Linked DNA regions of Homo sapiens: region 2 is linked to region 1. Evidence: fine-mapped expression QTL. A gene starts in region 1. The other region holds a variant in brackets. All regions are shown on one strand. Distances are from middle to middle.

Region 1 (8,568 bases):
CACAAAGCCTGGTAAACAGCACATGAAACTTACAGGGAAAATGCCTAGCAGGTATCCCAAGACATTCTCCTGGGTCAGTGTAAAGTGTAAAATCTTGTTATTCTTCTTAGCTGGACATACTTCAGAGATGGCAAGTCCAACTTAGCCAGGCTTTAGATCTGCCACAACTAACCTCACTCCTATTTTAGATGTCACCTCCCCTCACTTAGTTTAACTCCTCCCCACTCACTGCAAAAATTATGTTCGTATTTCTGAATTCAAATAAGAATCAGCAAAATTACTATGTTTTCTTTCCATTTAACATGGTAGCCTGTGATTTAAAACATACACACATAAACCCTGACTTTTCTTTCCATATACTCAGAACAGGTTCTTCTCTGGCTTTATCTTGAAGGAATAATCCCCAGCCTCATTTTATATATATATAGTGTATGTGTGTATATATATATATATTATATATATATAATATGTATATATTATCCTTATATCATTCTCTAGAATGGCATTTTACTCATCCAATGGCTAAATAATTTCAAATCATGCACTAGTTAACAGCCCAAGTTTGCAGTCGTCCAGCCATACCACAGAGGCCAAGCATACCTGCACAGACTTATATGATGTGATGAAAGGGAGCATGAGATGGAAACCAGGGCCGCTGGTCGAAGTCAGCAGGGCACCGCCTCTGCAGAGGAGGGGGAAGAGAGAGGCAGCTTCAGTTTGGCAAGAAGGCTCTGTTAGATCAATATCATGAGGGTCAACTTTCCCTTCAGCCCTATAAACATATAATAGAGAGTGACATGTGCTGCAGCCATGGCTACAGATCCCTTTCTTCCTCTCAGCTAGATCCTAATATTCTAGGAAGCCTGATGGTAAAACATAAAACTATTGTTCATGCTTTTGCAAGGAGAAAAATAGGCACATAGGCTAAATGGAATAAAGACAGCAGAACCCACTAGTGCAGTCCCAGCGCTTTGCGGGGCTGAGGTGAGAGGATTGCATGAACTCAGGAGTTTGAGACCAACCTGTCTCAAATAGTGAGACCCTGTCTCTACAAAAAAAGAAAAGGAAAAAAATTAGCTGAGTGTGGTGGTTGTATGCCTATAGTCCCAGCTACTTGGGAGGCTGAGATGTAAGAATTGCTTGAGCCTGGGAGGTTGAGGATGTAGTGAGACATAATTGTGCCACTGCACTCCAGCTTGGGCAACAAAGTGAGACTCTGTCTAAAAAAAAAAAAGAAAAAGACAGCAGAATCCATGGGTATACTTAGATAAGAGAAAGTCTGGCCAGGCGCGGTGGCTCACGCCTGTGATCTTTGGGAGGCTGAGGTGAGTGGATTATTAGGTCAGGAGTTCAAGACCAGCCTGGCCAACATGGTGAAACCTCGTCTCTACTAAAAATACAAAAATTAGCCAGGCGTGGTGGCAGGCACCTGTAATCCCAGCTACTTAGGAGGCTGAGGCAGAGAATTGCTTGAACCTGGGAGGCGGAGGTTGCAGTGAACCAAGATCTCACCACTGCACTCCAGCCTGGGCAACACAGCGAGACTGTCTCAAAAAAAAAAAAGATAAGAAGTCTGTTTTACTTTGTCATATCTGTTGGGCTTGTGGCAATCCATTAGGGCAGTTAAGTCCAGTAATATGGTTATCAACTACCTGCACTAATGCTGGAGTCCAATGACATGACCAACCAAAAGAATAATTTGAAGTACTTTATAAATAATTGAAATATATGTTTTGGCAATAGAGTTACCTTTCTAATCAAGTTATATGTAAATGATGAAGTTAAAAGCCTTTTTGGGGAACATGTAAGCAGATGATGGGGAGAAAGAATTAAAGGAGAGAGGAATTCCAATCAGAGTTTTAGAACTTGCTGTTAGCAATCCAGAAACAAGCATCACAACAGCACATATAAGAAGAGTTCATAAAGACATAAAGCAAAACACTTGGTCATGGAGGTTACTAAAAAGAAAGCAACCCAAGACTTATAAGTGCTTCTTTGCTTTATATTAGGCAAAGAATTAAAAAAAAAACCAATAAAATAAACAGTGACATAATGGGTTCCTTTATTGTAGGAACCACTATCCTAAGGCTTGCTTTGATTGACGTAAGTCAACCTGCAGGCTCTTTCATTTTTCTTGAAATGTTAATATTATTTTATTTTTAGAGACAGGGTCTTGCTCTGTCACCCAGGCTGGAGTGCAGTGGTGTGATCATAGCTCACTGCAGCCTCAAACTTCTGGGCTCAAGTGATCCTCCCACCTCAGCCCCCCAAATAACTGGGATTACAGGCACGTGCTGCCATGCTCGGCTAATTTTTTACTTTTTGTAGAGATGGGCTCTCACTATGTTGCTCAGGCTGGTCTCAATCTCCTGGGCTCAGGTGATCCTCCCATCTAAGCCTCCTGAGTAGCTAGGACTACGTGTGTGTGACACCACAGCCGGCCAATTAAAATTTTATTTTTTATTTTATTTTTTTAGAGATAGGGTCTCACTATGTGACCCAGGCTGGCTGAAATGTTAATTTTAAAAGAGCATCCCAAATTAGCAGAGTAGGCTACCTTCTCAAGTTGCCATCAAGAACTGGTACTCAGCTGGCTTTTGTAAAGGTAACCTAGCAGTGTAGAGCTAAGACTGCCAGAGGGATGTAGAGCTAAGACTGCCAGAGGGATGTAGAGCTAAGACTGCCAGAGGAATGTAGGAGAAAACAGTATTTTAGGGATGATCAATGAGGAGCACCAGTTTCCTTTAGATTTTGTCTCTAAATCTATATACACATTTATTAATCACCACCCATGGCATCATCTTGGACTACTAAGTGAAGTTCTAAATTTACATATATATGTGTGTGTGTGTATTCTCTTTCCCGTGGTTACTGACATAAAAAGCTCCATCTGAAAAGGCTCCCCTATTCAAGGAAATATAAATAGAGATGTTCAGCAGAATCTGCTAGGAAAGCAATGACCAGGAAAGGGAGCTATTTAACAGGAAGTTGCCGGCTTCTCCCTGTCTCTGCCTTACCTGTAATATACCCCAATATGTCCCTCTTCTATCTTGTGCACAGCTGAGAAGAGAGATGCACAAAAGAAACTGGAAGCCACAGCCACAACTGCTCCCAACTGAGCCATCAGTGAGCCTTTATCCTAGGGAAAAGACACGGGAAAATGTGTGTGGTCCAACGTGCAGGAGAAAAGGCCACAACAGCGAGAGGACCTCACCAAGCTGAGCTCCCTGCGAGTGACTCATATCCAGCCTGGTGTCGTGTGAACACAAGGCTAGATCTACAACTCGCTTCCTCCTCGTTCTCAGTCAACGTTCCCCTTTCTTTAACTGTAAAATTAGAGCCCCCACCGCACTGAGGAAGCACTGGCTCCGGATACAGCCGTTGCTCAAGGGAGAACCCGTGCCAGCTGGGTAGGGTTCAGAACACAGCCTTGTCTTCCTGTGAACACGAATGTGCTGTCACTGAACCTTTCCTACCAGTAGTAGGGAAGAGAGGCAGCTGCAGTACTTTGGCCCAAATTACAGAGGATGCCAAATGACAGGCAGTTGTGGCTATGTAATTCTGGTCAGAGTCTCCCACTCCTAATTGCCTGCAGTTTCAAAGGAAACCATTATTTACTCCTTTCAGATGCTGGAGTGGCAGAGCCAGCAGGCGAGCAGAGTTTCAAGGTAGGATTCGTTGGCCTCGCATCCACCTTCCCAGTTATTCCTTTGGCCCTAAACAGGACAGGGCTCTGAACAAGCCTGAAGCCACACTCCCCCCCATATACTTTGGCACTTTGCACCTGACAGATCCCCAAGCCCGTGGTCAGAGAGAAAGGCAATGTCCCAAACTGCGAGCCTCTAGGCTCCTAGGTCCAACCGCGTTCAGGCACCAGGACGCGGAGGAGTGGGATCCTGAACGCTGAATGATCTGGAACTATGGTGACTGACTGCAAAGTTCAGCTGTGCGTGCGTGGGCCCGTGAGCGCAGGGCGTGGATTCTGCCTCCCAGGTCTAACGTAACCGGGGCGCGGACATCTGCGAGGCGCTTATTTTACCGTGGCGGCCTCCGGCTACCGATCTGCAGTTGCGTCCTTTCCTGCCAGTGCCCTTCCCTCCCCGAGGTCACTCGCGCCCCTTCCCCGCCCCGTTCCGAGAGAGGGTCAAGCGCCCTGGTCTGGGGCTGCGGCTCCAATAGCCTCCGCTCGGTCCCCCTGCGGCTCGCAAGGAGAGGACGCGACAGAAAAGGGTTTCTGTCTCTCTCCAGGAGCGGGCCGGCTGAGGGAGAGAAGCTGCTGGGACTGAGGTTCCCGAAAGTGACGGGTCAGCCCCGACCCTGAGCGGCAGCTAGGCCCAGCGCGCGCACGAAGGGGCGGGGGCCGCGTACCAGGCTGTCCCTGCAGGCGCTCCGTACTCGTCCGAGCCCACGAGCAAGAAAACCGTCACACCCCTCAGCACGCGACTTCCTTCCGGGCCGTCGCTTCGATGACGCCATCAATTCACGCGAGAAGACCACACCCCCGCCCCGCGCTCGCTCTGCGCCCCGCCCCTCGCGCTCCCAGCGGTCAATGGCCGTAGCTGGCCGCCAGGGATCGCCCGCGACTTGGTCGGTGCGGTCCTGGACCTCGGTCTTGGGTATCCGTCCTGGGGCTGGGGATGAGGGCGGTGTTGGTGGGAGCTCCCCGAGAGCGAGCGGCAGGACGCGCATGCCCCGGAGTACTGAGACCCAGGGCGAACCTTTCCAAGGCGTTGACTTTGGGGATTGCTCCGGATTTCCTTCTGCATTAGGCCGAACCTGGTTCGTTTTGGTTTTTTTAGAGACAAGGTCTCGCTCTTTTGCCCAGGCTGGAGTGCAGTGGCACGATCATAGCTCACTACAGCCTCGAACTCCTGGGCTTAAGCGATCCTCCCACCTCACCCTGCTGAGTAGCTGGGACCACAGGCGCACGCCACGACACTTGACAATTTTATTTTTAGTAAAGACAGGGTCTTGGTATTTCTGGTCTCAAACTCTGGCTTCAAGCAATCCTCCTGCCTCGGCCTCCCAAACTGCTGGGATTACAGGCATGAGCCACCATGCGCGGCCTTTTTTTTTTTCTCTCCTTGATAAGGTACTGGCGAGTTGCAACTGTTTGCTTTCCTATAGCACAGCTGAAATGAAACAGTCTTTTCAATGTACAGATTAGCATCATTACCTCACCAATCAAAAATCCCTACCTTGAGTTGTTCTTTATATTTTTCTGGGAGCTTTGGCCCTTGGGATCCTGCAACGCCACAAAGTATATTAACAAGGAATTATTATTCTAATTTTAATGAACGGAATCTAAGAAGTTCAGCGAGGTTCAAGGGTAAAAGCCAAGGAAAGTTTCCTTTGTGTTTCCTTAATATCTTGAGTTCACTGCTTTTTAAACTCCTGCCACAGTGCACAGGGGCTAGTGCACTTCGTCTTTCTAGATAAACTGTACGTTCCCGGGAGAGCAGAGACTGACTTTCCTTCCGCACCCCCGGGGCTTAGGTGCCCAGTAAAAACAGACTGAAGGCAACGTGGGACCAGGCCCGGAATCCAGAGTTTGTGTCTCCTAGTCTAAGGGCCTCACGTTGTCCTCCACCTGCCCTATTCACCAGCATCACATTGGGGCATTTCTAATTCAGCCACTGAGGTTATTAATATTTTGTTTGCAGGAGAGAAAGAGTCCACTTAATTATAGCCTTCAGTAAAAGAAAAACTTTTACACCGGGAAGATGGCAAGCTGGTGGTGTTAGACAGATTTAAGACTCAGGAAAAGGGAAGTGTGGTTTTTTCCAGGCATGCCTGCTTGGGATTGGCCCGTTTACCTTTCCTGCGTTTGCTCTGGGTGTTGGGATGTTTCAGCATTACATGGTGAAACCCATACGAGGGTTACATGGTGCTGTCTGGGAGCTCTGTGCCCATCTCCATAAATGAAGGCCTTTCATCTCCCTACTCTGTCCCTGCATCCCCCACCCCAAACAGACACAGCTGGCCAATCTCTCGATCAATCCTATCAGAACTTGAGTTTTTTCTCTCCCTGTTCAGTGATATAACCTCAGCTGGGCATGCTTATTTAATAGTTTATTTAATAATTGAGTAAGAAAAATGGAAATATTAGGGTTCATCAACCCATGAAATGGGGGCTAGCCTGCAGCATCAAGTATTTAAATTACTTGTAATTTAAGAATTTCCTTTAACCAACCTCTGGCAACCCGTCTCCCCTCCCCTTCCCACAAATATGTATATTATTATGTGTCAATTAAAAATAATAAAAACACAAAAATTTCCTCACATTAAACTTTGGAGTGAATTGTGGCTAGAAGTTTTGGGATTTTGTTCTTAGGAGTCATTTTACCAGACCTGAGTTATTTAGTTGTGGACGTGCCTAAAGGCAGGGGGATGGACTTCGTGATGTGCTAGTACATGATGATCTAGTACTTCTGAAAATCTCTTTCTTAAGAGACCTGTGATTTTTATGTTACCCAGCAGATACATTTGTGATGATTTGTTTAACAAAAATGTTTACAATTTCTTTTTCTCCTTCCTTCCTTCCTTCCTTCCTTCCTTCCTTCCTTCCTTCCTTCCTTCCTTCCTGTCTCGCTCTGTCACCCAGGCTGGACTGCAGTGGCGCGATCTCAGCTCTGCAACCTTTGCCTCCCTTCAAGCGATTCTCCTGCCTCAGCCTCCCGAGTAGCTGGGGCTACAGACGCATGCCACCACGACTGGCTAATTTTTGTATTTTTAGTAGAGATGGGGTTTCACCACGTTGGTCAGGCTGGTATTGAACTCCTGACCTCAAGTGATCCACGTGCCTTGGGCTCCCAAAGTGCTGGGATTACAGGCGTGAGCCACTGCGCCCGGCTAAAATTTTATTTTTTAAAAAACCTCACAGTATAGAGTAGTGATTTAGCTCAGATACTTCACAGTCAGGCTGCCTTGTTTAAATCCTGGAGCCTGCCTCTTATTCTGTAACATTGGAAAAATGATCTATCCCTGCCTCAGTTTCTTCATCTATAAAATTAAAGTAATAATGGTATGAAACTTATAGGACTGTTGTGAAAAGCATATACAACATTTGGTACATTTTAAGTGTTCACCAAGTGTTAGCTGTTGCTGTTTTAAATAGCAAATTCCCTTAATGTATTCTTGCATGTTTGTGGGTTATCATTGCAGATTATTAATGTGACACAGGGCGAGAGAATGATAAACTTTAAGTTGTATGGTATTAAATAATAACCAAATGAAGGCTTATCAGAAGAAGAGATAAAGGCTTCTGAAATTATACCTCAATGGATATTTACAATACAGATTTCATAAAGCTTTATTGAATACTGTCTATGTATCAGCCCCAGTACCTTACATTTTCTCATTTTATGTAAACTTTAGGTCAGCCCTTTGAGTTCAACTCCATTTTAGAGGAGAAAGTGGAAGCTTAGAGAAATTAAGAGATTGTCTAAGATCACGAAGATGATAAATTGCAAAGGCAGAGTTCAAATGATCCCGTCTATTTCTTTTTTATAGTGAATGAGTTAGAAAATGATTCAATTTCAGACACAAACACACACACACACCCCACATTTATTTCACATGTAACCTTTCAGTAATGTAGATCAGTGGTCAGAAACTGAAATTTTTCTAATTAAATTGGGCCAGTTCATTTTGCAGTTGTAGATTGAAGCAGGTTAAAAAATACTCTCACCTAGCAATCCATAGTTTTCTATTTCTATTGCTGTTTGTTGGGTCCTCTTACCAAGAAAATTGTTAGTGAGAGTGCCATGCCAAAGAAGAGACCCCTTCTTTCACAATTAGGAATTTTTAAGTCAATTTCACAATTAGACTTTTTAAGCCAATAAGCAGGTCCAAAGGATTCAGGCAACTCTTAAAATCTTCTGCTTCAGTTCAGTTCAGTATCACAAGAGTGGAAGTTGCTGGAAAAAGTTTCCGTTTGATTTAAAGTTTATCTTTTTCACTTTAGGCCCTAAAACAGGGAATAGAAATAATCTTTTAGAACATTTGATTCCAGTAAGATTTTGGTGAGCTTATGGGAAGAGGAGTGAACTGTATCCTTAGTTATTAAGGGGGCTCAGAAATTTTTCCTCTTTTCTTTTTTTTTCAGTTGCAAAAACCGGGATTGGTGCCTTCCAAGAACAAAAGCATATTTGCTTGGGGCTAATGATGTTTCTTCAAGGCATTGGGTAAAGAGATCAAAGAGCCATCAGGAAAAAAATTGAGTTGAAAGTCAGCTAGAAGGCACCTAAAGGTCCTTTTGTGATTACACATTTTTACAGCTTTATTGAGATATAATTGACATGTAATAAACTGTTCATAAAGTCTACAATTTACATTTTGACTTGCAAATACCTGTGAAGCCATTACCACAATCAGTATAATGAACACATGCATCATGGCCCCAAATTTCCCCATGCCTCTTTGTAATCTCTCCCTCTTACCCCTCTTTGGTACACCCCCTTTTCGATTCTCAAAAGACCACTGATCTTCTTTTGCCACTCTAGATTAGTGTGCATTTTGTAGAATTTTATATGCATGGAATTGTATAGTATGTACCCTTTTTTGTGG
Region 2 (8,568 bases), 27 kb before region 1:
TAAAAGATCAAGACAGTAAATTTTATGTTTGTTTTATTGCAGTTATAAAAAGTTAAACATAACACTTAACTTGTGATTCAGCCATTCTATTCCTATATATTTATTCCAAGAAAAAGGGAAATATATCCATACAAAGGCTCGTACACAAATATTCATAGCAACTTATTTGCAACAGTCAAAAATCAGAAGCAACCCAACATTCATCAACAGGTGAATGGATAAACAAATTGTAATATACTTATACAATGGAATACTACTGAATGATAAAAAGAATTGAACCTTTGATACAGGTATGAACATGATGAATCACTACACTGAATGAAAGAAGTCAGACAAAAAAGAGTACATACTTCATGATTCCCTTTGGATAAAACTCTAAAAAATGTAAACTCACGTACATTAACAGTGACAAAAGCAGGTAAGTGGTTCTTGAGGAAGAGAAGTGGGACAGGTAAGAGAGGGATTACCAAGGGACAGGAGGAAACTTTTAGGGGTGATAGATATGCTCACTGTTTGTTGTGATGGTTTCACAGGTGCAAACATACATCAAAACTCGTCGAATTCTATACTTTAAATATGTGCAATGTATTGTAAGTCACTTACCTCCCTAATAAAGCTGTTACAAAATATATACAGGTTATTTAAATTTTTATACCTTAAGGGAAATAAGTTCAGTTACTCAAGATCTCCATGTCTTTCTTAATTTTATTTTACTATGATTCTTGTTTTTTTTTTTTTTTTTTTTTTTGGGATGAAGTCTTGCTCTGTTACCTAGTCTGGAGTGCAGTGGCGTGATCTTGGATCACTGCAACCTCTGCCTCCCGGGTTCATGCGATTCTCCTGCGTCAGCCTCCTGTGTAGCTGGGACTTGACAGGCATGCACCACCACGCTCAGCTATTTTTTTGCATTTTTAATAGAGTTGGGGTTTCACCATGTTGGCCAGGCTGGTCTTGAACTCCTGACCTCAGGTGATCCGCCTGCCTCGGCCTCCCATGGTGCTGGGATTATAGGTGTCAGCCACCGCGCCTGGCCTACTTTACTATAATTCTTAATTTTACTTTACTATACTTACTTTACTGTATTGTATTTTATTTACTGTAGCCTTTTATTTAAAGGAAAAAGAACAGAAATGTCTCTTTTGCTAGTTAAAAAAATTTATGGGCTACAATTCTTTATAATTTTTCTGAAAGACCACCAAATAATAATAAACATGAGGTTGGGTAGGTTTCCAAGTATATATAACCCAGAAAATGGTGAATTCATTCTGTTCTTGGCATGATGTTTTCTCTTTTTATTAAGAACTCAGACTTTCCTAAAGAAATTCCAAAAACAAATGGTGAATTGGGGCTATTCTAAAAGTTGCTCTCTCTTCCACAAAGGGTAGTAGAAGCAATACAATGACAGAACAATTTTGTTTTCATATTTAATTTTATCTTACCCATCAATTTGTTGACATTTTGTTTCTGTAGGTGGCCAATGAAGTGCCATTTGATCTCAGGACACAAAGACAGAATCTGAGGGGAAAAAGGTAACCATGTGTAATTCAGATTTTATAGAGGCCTTGCTGGCTCAAACGCCTCGTGCACTCCCTGTCACCTTTCACATCCACTCTCTGTTCCTTAAATGTAATAAACTATCACAATCTTCACCCGGCCTCCTAATGAGGTAAAAGGATAGAGAAAAATCTAAGGCTTCTGTTCTGTTTTCCTTCCTTGTTCCCATCAATTCCCTCCATCTTTCAGATATTGCCCATCTAGGATGAACTGATTTAAGCTTTCAAATCTTGAAAAGATCCAAGATTACAGCAAGCTCCTGAAACCACCATTTCCAAACAGCCACCAATGAGAAAACGACAGTCTGAACAAAGAGAAAAATCTAGCTGAGAATTACTTGGGGCTCAAGGAGGAAGCTGACATTTCTATCCCTGGCCCAATCTAAAGTCAACCACCCTAAAACTGCTGTACAACTCAACCACCAGGATGGGTCTAATTTTCAACTAAAGAGCCAAGATTTAGATACAAATTAAAGAATTCAGCTATCTACTTACTTTGGGATTTGATGCTTTTTCTAGCAGTTCCTGAACCTAAAAGGTCAAAACAGAACAAGTCAGAAGCCTGGCAATCATGATGCTTCCAAAGGGCTTCAGGAAAGGGCTCTTACGTAGTTCTCGCCAAAAGTGCGCTGCCCATGTCCATAGGCCTCGATCACCATGTCTGCAGGTTTGGTTTTGCTGACCGCCACTAGCCGGGGCTGGATGGCTGGGAGATCCTGCCAAGAGGGAAAGAGCCATATGAGTGAATGTTTGGGAACAGTACCCCAATGAATCCCATAGGATAGATCCTGTAGGATAGACAGGCATTGATCTCAACTTGGCATTAGGTAAGATCCATTTTTTCAACACTGTAGGCAGATCAATATCAAATAGTGGTGATCATGATCAAATGTTTTTTAGGCGCATGGCATCTCAATCTATGCATCAATGTTAGCGATGTCAATATTCAGCAGAAGAAATGTCTCTCTCAGGAGAGCCGGGCAAGTTAAAGCAGTATTTCCTGTAAGTGTGGTCTTTGACCAACTGCATCGGCATCACCTGGGTGAGAATTTCCTTTTTTTTTGAGACAGAGTTTCACTCTTGTTGCCCAGGCTGGAGTGCAATGGTGCCATCTCGGCTCACCGCAACCTCTGCCTCCTGGGTTCAAGTGATCAAGCAATTCTCCTGCCTCAGCCTCCTGAGTAGCTGGGATTACAGGCATGCATCACCATGCCTGACTAATTCTGTATTTTTAGTAGAGACAGGGTTTCCCCATGTTGGTCAGGCTGGCCTTGAACTCCCGACCTCAGGTGATCTGCCCACTTCGGCCTCCCAAAGTGCTGGGATTACAGGCATGAGCCACTGTGCCCAGCGGAGAATTTCCTTTTTAACAATCTCTCCAGATGACTCTAAGACATACTAATGTTGGAGGCTTAAGAATCACTTCATTAATAGAAGGCTGCACTCTAAGTAAAAGAGAGGTCACTTCTGGCTTCTGAAACCCAAACGTTAGCAGTTTGGCGACTCATTCTAGTCCTGGTGTATCATTACACCATAATAACACTGCCCCATTTACTCTAAAAGTGGCCCACTTAGGTAACTAAGTAATTGATTGTTCAATCTGTGAATTAAGAACCAGTGGCATGGCCAGGTGAGCCACACGCCTGTAATCCCTGCACTGTGGGAGGCCGAGGTGGGTGGATCACCTGAAGTTACGAGTTCGAGACCAGCCTGGCCAAAAGGTGAAACCCCATCTCTATTAAAATACTAAAACTTAGCCAGGTGTGGTGGTGGGCATCTGTAATCCGAGCTACTTGGGAAGCTAAGGCAGGAGAATTGCTTGAATCCGGGAGGTGGAGGTTGCAGTGAGCTGAGGCTGTGCCATTGCACTCCAGCCTGGGTGACAGAGTGAGACTCCGTCTCAAAATAAAACAAAAAACAACAGTCTGGCCAACATAATGAAACCCTGTCTCTACTAAAAATACACAAAAAATTAGCCAGGTGTGGTGGTGTGTGCCTGTAATCCCAGCTACTCAGGAGGCTGAGGCAGGAGAATTGCGTGAACCCGGGAGGTGGAGGTTGCGGTGAGCCAAGATCGTGCCACTGCACTCCAGCCTGGGCGACAGAACGAGACTCTGTCTCAAACAAAACAAAACAAAACAAAACAACACAACAAAAAAAAAAAAAAAAAGAAAGAAAAGAACCAGTGGCAGAACTAAGGCTGCGACACAAAAAATTCTGGATTCAGGATCAGACCTATGTGACATCCTCTCACGACCACTATACAAAGAGCGGGGGTTCTATGCGTTCTGCTGCCACCCAATCCACATAGAAACAGTAAGAGAAGAGATTCGTTTATCCTTGCACGATTTAGTCTTCTTGTATCCATCATCCCCTGAAGTTTTCACAGAATCACAGTGTTCTCAAGGACGTGACGGAGTCAGATCAATTAGAAAAATGTCTCCTCTTCCTTCCTTCCACAGCGATGCGTAACCAGCCTCGTTTGAGTCCAAGTCGTGACTACTGGGAGTATGCTGATGATTGACGCTTTCCAGAGAGTTACCCGAACAGGCAGCCCATCTGCCTGAGAGTTTCCCTGAGAGAACCTCCAAGGTGATGTTTATTAGGGGAAGCCCTAGATTTTTCTTGGAGAATCACCGAGAATCACAGAATATTAACATCAGAAGAGATCTCAGAGCTTTCAGAGCTGAGGGCCGGAATAGTTACCTGACTTGTTCAAGGTAACGTCTAAGGAATAGTCAAAGAAAGACTATAATACAGGTCTTGTCTTCAGCCAGCATAAATGCTCGATCAGAGAAACCTGTGACCTCTCTGTTAAGGTCCGTCTCATTCCACACCATTCAGCTTAAACTTGCACTGAGGTGGGCAGATTTTGATTCTTGGTCTAATCAAAGTCCAAGAGGATGTAATATATATATACACAAAAGACGAAAGCTCCCCTTAACCGGCTTGGGATTGGACTTCTCCCTCCTGCCCCATAAACAAGTGCCGCTCTGATGCCAGCGAAGTCCGGCCAGTCCACCCTCACCTCGGCCTCCGGGCGGCACTGGCATTTCTTGGGCACTTAGCAGGTGAGACGCTGCCA[C/T]ACACGCGATCTCGGGCGTCTCTGGCCTCCGCGGGGTGCTCTTGTACCCCCGTCTCCCCTTACCATCCGTGGGCACAGGCCTGGCCCCCCTCGCATCCGCCAAGGCTATCGACCCCGAAACGACGCGGTGCGCAAGTGGCCACGACACCTAGGCACTAAGTCATTTTCCCGAGGTAGCGGTACCCTCTGCTCCAACGAAGCCAATCTCCAGAAAACCTAACAGACTCAAGGTAAGGAGGCTGGGGAAACCCTTCGCTAGCCTTTCGGTGGCCCTAGGCGGCCGACCAGTCCCGCCTCTCTGGGAGACCCCTCTGCGTCACCGTGACGACCCATTCCCACGCAGGTGTCCCTCTTCTCAAGGCGGCCGCCCACCGTCCCCACGCAGCCTCCTTCCTCACCCGCGGCCGCCGCGCCACAGCCTGCTGCACGCGCTCGTTCACCGCCCGCAATGCGCACCCGACTCCCAGCTCGGCCGACATGCTGCCAGCTCTCCACATCCCCCGGGGACCGACGCCGAGCCCCAGGCCCCCGGCAGCCCGTGGCTCACACCATCTTCCGGTTCCGCCCAGCTTGCGCCGTGTGAACCAATCATTGCTCATCATTGAGTCGTCTCACCCAATCAACACCCGTGCAGCGTGGAGGCCCGCCCCCAGGCGGCGGCCATCTTGGGGAGGTCACCCGCGAACCTGGAAATGGAGCCTAGGGGCTGAGGTTTTGCGCGCCTGGTTCCAAGGGCCACTCCCCGTGTGCTCTCCTCTTTCCTGCGCCTCAGCCGCTGCCGTCCCCCCACCCCCAAGGGACTTTTGTGAGGCAGAAACGCATCCTATACTCGGGGGATCCTGTTTCCTTTCAAAACGCCTTTCCAGGCTTGCCCGTTCCCGGCTTTCTGGGCGCGGGGACCAGAATTAGAAGCCACTGGGGCGGGAGCCAGGGCTTTTCTCTGTCAGATGGTTCTTGCGAGGAACCCCTAAGCGATACGAAAGGAAACTCTTCTTTCTTCTTTTCCCTAAAGACATGGCGTGATTCAAACGTATCGTGATTTTTGTCATCTTTCAGACCACTGCTGTCCAAGAGAAATATAACGCCATCCAACTGTGTAATTTGGAAGTTTCTCATAGGCACATAAGCTTAAAAATTTTAATGATATACTTTATTTAATCCAATATATCCAAAGTAAGATTTCAACATGCAATCAATAGAAAAACTAAATGCGATATTTTAATTCTTTTGAAAATCGTATGTGTTTCTGAAACCCGGTGTAGTGTTGACTTGCATATGTCTCAATTCGGGCCATCCCTATTTCGAGAGGTTAGCGGCCACCTGCGGCCAGTGCTGTCTCATCAGGGGACACAGGCAGCATGATTATTACTATTATTATTATTGAGACAGTCTCGCTCTGTCACCCAGGCTGGAGTGCGGTGGCCCGATCTGGGCTCACTGCAACCTCCACCTCCCGGGTTCAAGCGATTCTCCTGCCTCAGCCTCCCCAGTAGCTGGGACTACAGGTGCGAGCCACCGCGCCCAGCCCACAGGCAGCTTTAGATGGTCTAGCAGGAGCTCAGCACATTCAGTTAGATTCTTTTTTTGAGATGGGGTCTCGCTATGTTGCCCAGATTATCTGGGACTCGTGGGCCCAAGCAATCCTCCCACCTCCGCCTCACAGAATAGCTGGGACTACAAACGGGCACCACAACGCCCTGAGTTTGATTCTTGAGTCCCCTTCTGTGGGCAATATGGTTATAAACTTGATGAGGAGCCAGGCCATACAAATAATAATACAGAATGCTACATAGTCAGGTGGTGAAATAGTAGGTGCTACGGGCAAGGAGAAGGAGATCAATTTTGTTAAGGAAAGCACTCTTGGCTGCAATTTCTGTTGAAAGTTTCTCAAACATTAATTCAACTTAATGAAGTGGGATGCTATTATATTAGAGAAATGGCTAATGTTTGTTCTTCAGGTGGTCTTGTCTTGAGGTGATGGGGTTTATTAGAGCTTTCCGGAAAGAAGGGGCAATATTCTTACTCTCTCCTCTCACAGTTTTTCCCCAGACTCCCAGGAACAGAGATGGAATTTCACATCTTCTGCTCTGGGAAAGTCACATTAGGCAGAACCTCAGATCCTTAAAATAAGGGACTTCTTTTTGGGAAGTCTCTGGTCATTTACCCTGGTACACATTAACTGGGTTATCTGCAAACTAGGACTGCCAACATTAGGAGTAATTGTGTTCAGATAAAATGTCTCTAGACTTGATACATCTGTACTCCAACCAAAATGATAAAAAAATTTAAAATGACCAGAATGGCCCTTTGTGGTGTGAGCATAATAGATGCTTGCTGTAGAGACACAGGTGGGAAGGAGCGAGCCAGCAGTGAGTGATGGGGAGGACAGAGGGGATCATGGTGATGGGATGTGTAGAGGAAGGATTGGGTGAGATGAAACACTTCAAATAATGTGCTATTTGGAAAACATTTTAAAACCATAAATACCTCACAGATCTAGGGAATGTATAATCCAGGTGTTACGTCACTATGACAACAAGTAGTTGTAGCTTCATTTACTAGATTGGGCCTCTATTCTTTTTTGTGTTTTTTGAGACGAAGTCTTGCTCTGTCACTCAAGCTGGAGTGCAGTGACGCGATCTCGGCTCACTGCAACCTCTGCCTCCTGGGTGCAAGTGATTCTCCTGCCTGAGCCTCCCGAGTAGCTGGGACTACAGGCGTGCATCACCACGCCCGCCTAATTTTTGTATTTTTAGTACAGATGGGGTTTCACTATGTTAGCCAGGTTGGTCTCGAACTCCTGACCTTGTGATCCACCCGCCTCGGCCTCCCAAAGTGCTGGGATTACAGTCGTGGGCCACCGTGCCCAGCCAGGGACCTCTATTCTTTGAACTACAAGGCAAGGTCATCCTCCCACCCCCTTATCCATTCAGTGAACATTTACTGAGGCGTTACTCTGTAAAGAACCCTGAGAGAGACCAGGCTGAGTAAGACAGGCTTTACTGCCGATTTACTTCCAATATGCTCGCTTTTCATCTCTGACATTCTGTGGTCTTATGAAAATGGAAATGGAGACAAAAAGATCATGGTGCCCCCAGTCCCATGGTCATTTCACATTCCAATTTCTTCTTAGTTGTACTTTTGAATTAATTTTATTTCACTTTGTCCCTTTTTTTCCTTATTTGCTTTTTTAATTTCTTCTCTTCCTCTTCCTGGGACATCAACCATCCAATTTAACCTTTCATCCTCCCCTACTACCTAATCCTTGAAAAATACAAGTCCAAAATCATTTCATCACCAGTAATTGTCTTTAAATTGCTCCAATAATTTGCAAGGACCAAGGGGAAAAGAGAAAGATTAAAAAGCCAAATGCCCAGAGAAACAGATTTTATAAATAATCTAAAATCTAGTATACTTATTCACCATCAATGCCATCAAGCTTTTAAAACACCCTCATAGTCTGGAATAAATCCAAATTATGAGAAAAACATATATGGATTTAAAAATTGTTTCCTTCTGAGCCTACTGTGAGTCTTTTAGGGGGATAAAAAAGTAAAAAGTAAAATAGAAAATTACTGTTGCCTGGTTACTTAGCTCTAAAGAGAAACGGAGAAATAATGCCCATGTCCCATCCCAGTTTAAATGAATTCAGGTAGAGTAGCCCATGACAGCAAGCCCTTGGCACACATGCCATCACATCTGGCCTTTGAAATGTCTATAGAGATAGTAGAACCCTAGACCTAGGGAAGACTTAGGGAGGTTTCATACAGAAAGAATGACATTTAAACCATCCCAAACAGCACAGAGTCTTCACAATTTCTGAAGACCATCAGAGAAGAATATTTATTTTCTATTTGCAAGTAACTACTCCTCCCCATTTGAAAATTTAGCAAGCCTGATCTTAAGTAAATTCTTTACAAATCCTCCTTT

Evidence for each region. PIP is the estimated chance that this variant, and not a neighbour inherited with it, causes the effect.
Region 2: its variant is fine-mapped to the expression of ERLIN2 in whole blood (TOPMed, PIP above 0.99).

What each region holds. Positions count from the first base shown.
Region 1 is chr8:37,732,479-37,741,046 of GRCh38, reverse strand. ERLIN2 (ER lipid raft associated 2) reads right to left here and starts at 4,413. Exons shown (of 12, transcript NM_007175.8): 1 at 4,369-4,413; 2 at 3,018-3,139; 3 at 601-682. The coding sequence starts at 3,124. It overlaps LOC101929622 (a long non-coding RNA gene), which reads right to left. Exons shown (of 3, transcript NR_125820.1): 3 at 7,554-7,969. LOC102723701 (a long non-coding RNA gene) reads left to right here and starts at 3,621. Exons shown (of 2, transcript NR_125821.1): 1 at 3,621-3,668; 2 at 4,249-6,286. RefSeq lists enhancers at 3,059-3,851, 4,331-4,540.
Region 2 is chr8:37,759,227-37,767,794 of GRCh38, reverse strand. PLPBP (pyridoxal phosphate binding protein) reads right to left here and starts at 5,150. Exons shown (of 8, transcript NM_007198.4): 1 at 5,037-5,150; 2 at 2,162-2,269; 3 at 2,049-2,084; 4 at 1,440-1,515. The coding sequence starts at 5,135. It overlaps LOC124901934 (a long non-coding RNA gene), which reads left to right and starts at 4,531. Exons shown (of 2, transcript XR_007060889.1): 1 at 4,531-4,868; 2 at 4,982-8,568. RefSeq lists enhancers at 4,722-4,781, 5,090-5,384, 4,962-5,421, 5,522-5,601 and a silencer at 5,142-5,462. The variant C/T (reference allele first, on the strand shown) is at 4,639.